2 linked regions of the Homo sapiens genome follow. The protein of the gene in region 1 purifies or fractionates together with the protein of each later gene. This does not show direct contact. Each region holds a gene or a part of one and is shown on either strand. Other genes may lie near its edges.

Region 1 (3,500 bases):
CAAGAAAGCTGAAAGGATCCAACAGCAACAAAAAGCAAACCAAAAAGGGGGTGAAGTGTTTTCATGTAAAACACTGAAAATGAAGCTCAGAAAACTTCCTTAGACTTTCCTAATAATAAAAACAATGAACTGAAGAAGCTGCTAAGGATACTAAACCGAATCACCTCTGAGCAGTGACTTCTAAATGTTCTTTACAAATTTAGTCTTTTATAAATGTGTCTCTTCTCCCCCAGCTTCTGTTTCTCTTTTATAATCTGACAGGCTGGTGTGTGAGGTTCCTAATCTCCCAGTCACAGAAGAAATTATGTTCAAGACAGCTCAAACGGCAGGCCAGGGTAGTCAAGACAGACTCTGGTGATATCACAAGCAGGAGACTGCTGCCGCTCCCCAGAGATGCGGCTACAGAAACTCCCCATCGCCAAACAAGAAACCACCACGGGATTATACCACTTCCCCCATAAAATGCAGAAGAACTGAAAATGGTTCAATGTTCCCTTTAATCACTAACATTTACGGAGCACTTGCGATGGGTTACAGGTGCCCCGTGCTAGGCATGTGAGATTCCTAATCTTGTTTAAAACTCCAACTCTTAGGCAGCCATTCTCACCATCTTTATTTTTGAGGTGAAGAATTGAGCCATAGAAAGCTGCCCAGTTACTGTCTAGCCTGCAAATCAGACTTCTGAGAGCCAGACCAGTGGGCTCTTAGCTCCATGGTCTCAGGCCCGACTCCCACTAGAACTTCGATAGGCATCATACTCAGCCTGAGCACATTCAAGTACTTGTCACGTCATGACAAGTACTTGAAATGTTGAATGTTGGACTTCCTTTTCTCACCTGAATCTCCTTTCTACTGGTGTCTTAAAAGCTTTTTTTTTTTTAAAGAAACAAGGTTGGCTGGGAATGGTGACTCATGCCTGTAATCCCAGCACTTTGGGAGGCCAAGGCAAGAGGATCACTTGAGGCCAGGAGTTTGAGACCAGCCTGGCTAACATGGCGAAACCCTGTCTCTACTAAAAATACAAAAAAAATTTAGCCAGACGTGATAGCGCACACCTATAGTCCCAGCTACCCTTTCTGAGGCATGAGAATCACTTGACCCCAGGAGGTGGAGGCTGCAGTGAGCCAAGATCATGCCACTGCACTCCAAACTGGGTGAAATAGTGAGACTCTGTATCAAAAAAAAAAAAAGGGGGGGGGAGACAGGGTCTCACTCTTGCCCAGGCTGGAGTGCAGTAGCATGGTCATAGCTCACTGCAGCCTCGAACTCCTGGGCATAAGTGATCCTCCCACCTCAACCTCCTGAGTAGCTAGGACCAAAGGCATGGCCACCACACCCAGCTAATGTTTTTTGTAGAGATGAGATCTCACTATGTTGCCCAGGCTGGTCTCAAACTCTTGGCCTTAAGTGATCCTCTTGCCTCGGCCTCCCAAAGCACTGGGATTACAGGTATGAGCTATTGCACCTGGCCAAAGGTCTCATATTTGGAAACATTAAGCAAACATATTACTAAAAGGCAGGTCAGCCAAAGGAAAGCTGGCTGGAGGGCAACTGAAGAAAGCACTCAACAGTGATGGATAGAGACTGAGTGATACAAGGTGGGGTCAGTGAAAGCAAGTAACATCAGCCGCCATGTATGTCTTTAACTTAAAACTTGTGTTACAGTCTAAGTAAGTCCTGATCATTTATATTACAGATACTTTCTCTAGAACGATGATGATCACAGCAACAACACCTAACAGTGAAGACCTTATGAGGAGCCAGGCACTGTGTGAGGGAGGGCTTTACATGGATTACCGCCTGTAACCCTCACAATACCTATGAGGAAAATAAGCACTATTTCACAGACAAATACACTGAGGCAGAGACATGAATTCACCTGGCCAAGTCAGAGGTCCTAAGTGGTGATCTGGGTTTGAATCCAACCTGGGCTGGCTCCAGAGGCCATGCTCAATGTAAAGCATCACCCCACGCTGTTCCACATCCCCTTCCCTCCTGGTGCTTGCTCCAGTTGTCATTTTGCTTTTCTGTTTGTGCCTCTAAACTAAACTGTGAGGCCCAGGAGTGCAGTGCCTGTGTACCCGTGCAGAGTAAAAGGGTGGGCACACAGCTGGATGCATAGATGAGCTGGAAGAAGGAGAAGCTGTAGGCACGGAGGTATTCATGGAACAGCAAACGCAGGAAGAAAGACAAGGATGAAGTAAATGATAACACAAAGGATGGACAACACTGAAATCGCTAATGAAAGCAATATGGAAGTGCTGGGGCCACAGTGTTGAATGGAACAATCCGAAAGTCCATACACTTCAAAAATGGAAGAATTACGGAAACACAGAAAAGGATTGGAAGGAAACATGGAGAAATAATGACTTAAATCACTAGGGTGGCAAAATCCTAGGACCAATGTTTATTCCTGCCTCGGAATACTATAGAAACAAAAAGCATTAGACCACACCAAAAAAAGTTAACAAATTCCAAATGGCAGAAATCTTTACAGGCAGCATCCACTGACAATAAAGCATGAAAACTGGTCAAGAACAGCAATAGCAAAAAAGATATATAAACATATCTTTAAAATTAAAAATATATAAAATATACTTTAAATAAATATATCTTAAATATATATATTTTTCCACTTAGACATTTAAATTTGGAATCAGAAGTAGGAATCAATATTTCTTCCTCAACCATACCCTGTCTAGAGCTGAAGGGCTATGAGGGAACACACACGAGAACACCCACTTCTGTCAGTGCGCTCCCTCTTTCTCCCTGGAGCCTTTCCAGTTCTCCCAGTGCCACTGCAGAGGAGACCTGCATGAGGTGTGAACACCTTCTGCATTGCAGAGGGACCCCCAGCACTGGCAATAACAGAGCAATGTCAGAAAGCATGAGGTCATGGACCCAGGCAGGCCTCAACTGTCTCACCTGGAATCCACCTAACAACCACTTTGCCTCTTCATCGTCTGTCGCCACATCACCTCACAATTGTGATATGTTGGGGCCACAGGCTTGTTAAGTTGTTAAAAATTGCTAAACTTGTTAAGTTGAGAAATGTTGGAGGAAAAAAACTTCATGGCTCAAAACCACTCCACCCATTATGCTGCAAAAAGAAAAGAGGAGGGAATGTCCTGTTCTGACAGCGCTGTATCCCGATCAGCTCCGTTAGCTGTCTACAGAAGGAGCTGCATAGTCGCCACAGCCACGAAGCATAACCTCCACGCACACCCTGGCTCGCTCCCCGGGAAAACCTGCTCCACACGTCTCCCCCACTGCCAAGTGTCACGCACGCCCTGGAAACCCACCACTATAGTATTGTTCTACGCACTACAGAAATAGACACACTTGCAAAATAAAAATTTCACCTGTCTGCTGGATGCAATGGCTCATGCCTGTAATCTCAGCATTCTGAGGCCAAGGCAGGCAGATCACTTGAGCTCAGGAGTTCAAGACTAGCCCAGGCAACACGGCGAAACTCTGTCTCTACTAAAAATATAAAAATG
Region 2 (2,317 bases), on another chromosome or scaffold:
TTGCCCGAGCTCAGGAGTTCAAGACCACCCTGGGCAACATGGTGAAACCCCCGTCTCTACTAAAATACGAAAACATTTAGCCGGGCGTGGTGGTGCACACCTGTAGTCCCAGCTACTCAGGAGGCTGAGGCAGGAGAATCGCTTGAGCCCGGGAGGTGGAGGTTGCAGTGGGCCGAGATTGTGTCACTGCACTCCAGCTTGGGTTACAGAGTGAGACTCCGTCTCAAAAATAAAAAAAGATACCGAAGGCCCCTTCTCCAAAGACCACCTGCTTTATGGTGGTCTTTGGAGAAGGGGCCTTCAGTATTTCCTTAGGCATTTTCCTTGAGTGATAGAAACAGCTCGGTTTTCCCCGTGGAGACAGCATTCCTGTGTGCACCCTCTCTGGTCCCTTCTGCCCAATTCCCTAGGTCTCTAGGAAGGGATGATGGGATGGGATGGGCATGAGGGTGAGGAAGAAGCATGAAGGCGCTTATCAATAACAGATGTCAACAGGTGGCTTATTGATATCAGGTGGTTTATTGATATTGAAACTCCACGCCCCTTTCACCACAGACCACCTGTTGGCCATAAGGCTATGGTGCCAGCGATCTCTCCCACTAACAGAGCTGGCCAGGTCCCAGGGCCTAGCAAACCTCCCAGAGTGGTCTCTAGGTATGGAGGACCCCAGAAAGGGGAAGGGGCTGTGATTGAAGGGATGCTACTCTCTGATTAACCGACAGTATGACCGTCACATTAGGGTCAGCTACACTGCAGGGCTGGGGTGTGTGGATATCTGTGCTGGGGTCTGGGCTCCGTGGAGAGATGTGTAGGGGTAATGAGAAATTGATCAGCAATGAGAGGTGGACTCTGAGCCACCTCCCTGACCCTGAATCATTCAAGCGAGGAGCAGAGGAGCTCTTGACTGGGGGACGGGGATGTGAGGATCCCCAGGGCCTCAGAAGTTGTTATCAATGTTCCAGACATCCCCGCTAAGCGCATTGGCTGCCCCTTGCAGCGTCCAGGTGAGCAGGGCTAGCTGACGCCGGAAACGGCTCTCCTGGAAGCCAGTGGAGGAGGTGGCCCCGGGGGTCCCGGAGCTGTTGGAGCGCAGCAGCCGCAGGTGGTCCAGCAGGGCGCCCAGCGTGTGGTCTCCACGGCCCATGAAGATGTGGCGGAACGGGGAGTCGGCTGGCGACACGTACTGGGAAAGGAAGTAGAACTCCACCTGCGCAGAGAGGGGGATCAGGTCAGGGTTGGGGGCTCTGGCTCGGGAGCAAAGGCCCGAGTCACCCTTCCCGCCAGCCAGTCTTTTTGTTTTTTTGTTTGTTTGTTTTCTTTTTGTGTTTGTTTTTTGTTTGTTCGTTTGTTTTGAGACGGAGTCTCGCTCTGTCTCCCAGGCTGGAGTGCAGTGGCACGATCTCGGCTCACTGCAACCTCCGCCTTCAGCGTTCAAGCGATTCTCCTGCCTCAGCCTCCAGAGTAGCTGGGATTACAGGCACCCGCCACGACGCCCGGCTAATTTTTGTATTTTGAGTAGAGACGGGGTTTCTCCGTGTTGGCCAGGCTGGTCTCGAACTCCTAACCTGAAGTGATCCGCCCGCCTTGGCCTCCCAAAGTGCTGGGATTACAGGTGTGAGCCACCACGCTAGGCCTCCCCTTCTATCTCTAGAACCCCTAAGCCTGCATGTAGTTCTCCCGAGTCTTCCTTCCTCACCCATTCAGTGAATGCTCAAAGCCTCAAAGAACAATCTATCGCCCTGCTGTTCCCTTCTTAACACCACACCTCCCCACACCGAGTCATTCTCCACCCCCACCAATGTCCACAGCCCAGAGACGAAGGTCAAGGGGACAGTCCAGTCCTCATGAAAAGCCTGGCTTTCCTCCCTCTGACGCAGCTGCTGTTCCGTCTTTCCTGAGACGGCCTTGCTCCTGACCTAATCTCCTCCCTCCTTTCTGCCAGCCTCTCCTAGTTTCCTAGCCTCTCCTAGCCCCATCTCTGGTTTGTTCTGCTTCCACCCGTGGGCAGGTCTCAAAGTTCCACCTCCCTCTTCTCTGTACCTATTAAATTATCATTGCCTGGGCACCGCCCCAGTAAAATCAGAATCTCTAGGGGGTGATCTCAGATGCTCACATCTTTTATTTTTAGAGACAGGGTCTCACTGTCACCCAGGCTGGAGTGCAGTGGTGCAATCACAGCTCACTGCAACCCAAACCCCAGAGGTCAAGTGATCTTCCCGCCTTAGCCTCCTGAGTAGTTGGGAGTGCAGGCACGTGCCACCATACCCAGCTGATTTTCAGATGCTCACATCTTTTTAAGGCCTCCATCATTCACTCA

The links. Proteins that work in one complex are often made in the same cells at the same time.
Region 2: the proteins of TBC1D2B (region 1) and TFR2 purify together in Homo sapiens (affinity purification with mass spectrometry; one large-scale study listed by BioGRID and IntAct). This does not show direct contact.

What each region holds. Positions count from the first base shown.
Region 1 is NC_000015.10:78,018,712-78,022,211, forward strand, and holds part of TBC1D2B (TBC1 domain family member 2B), read right to left. Parts: intron 1-3,500. UniProt on the Homo sapiens protein: GTPase-activating protein that plays a role in the early steps of endocytosis.
Region 2 is NC_000007.14:100,619,920-100,622,236, forward strand, and holds the end of TFR2 (transferrin receptor protein 2), read right to left. Parts: exon of another isoform or gene 2,203-2,317; intron 1,208-2,202; coding exon 938-1,207; 3' UTR 501-937; downstream 1-500. UniProt on the Homo sapiens protein: Mediates cellular uptake of transferrin-bound iron in a non-iron dependent manner. May be involved in iron metabolism, hepatocyte function and erythrocyte differentiation.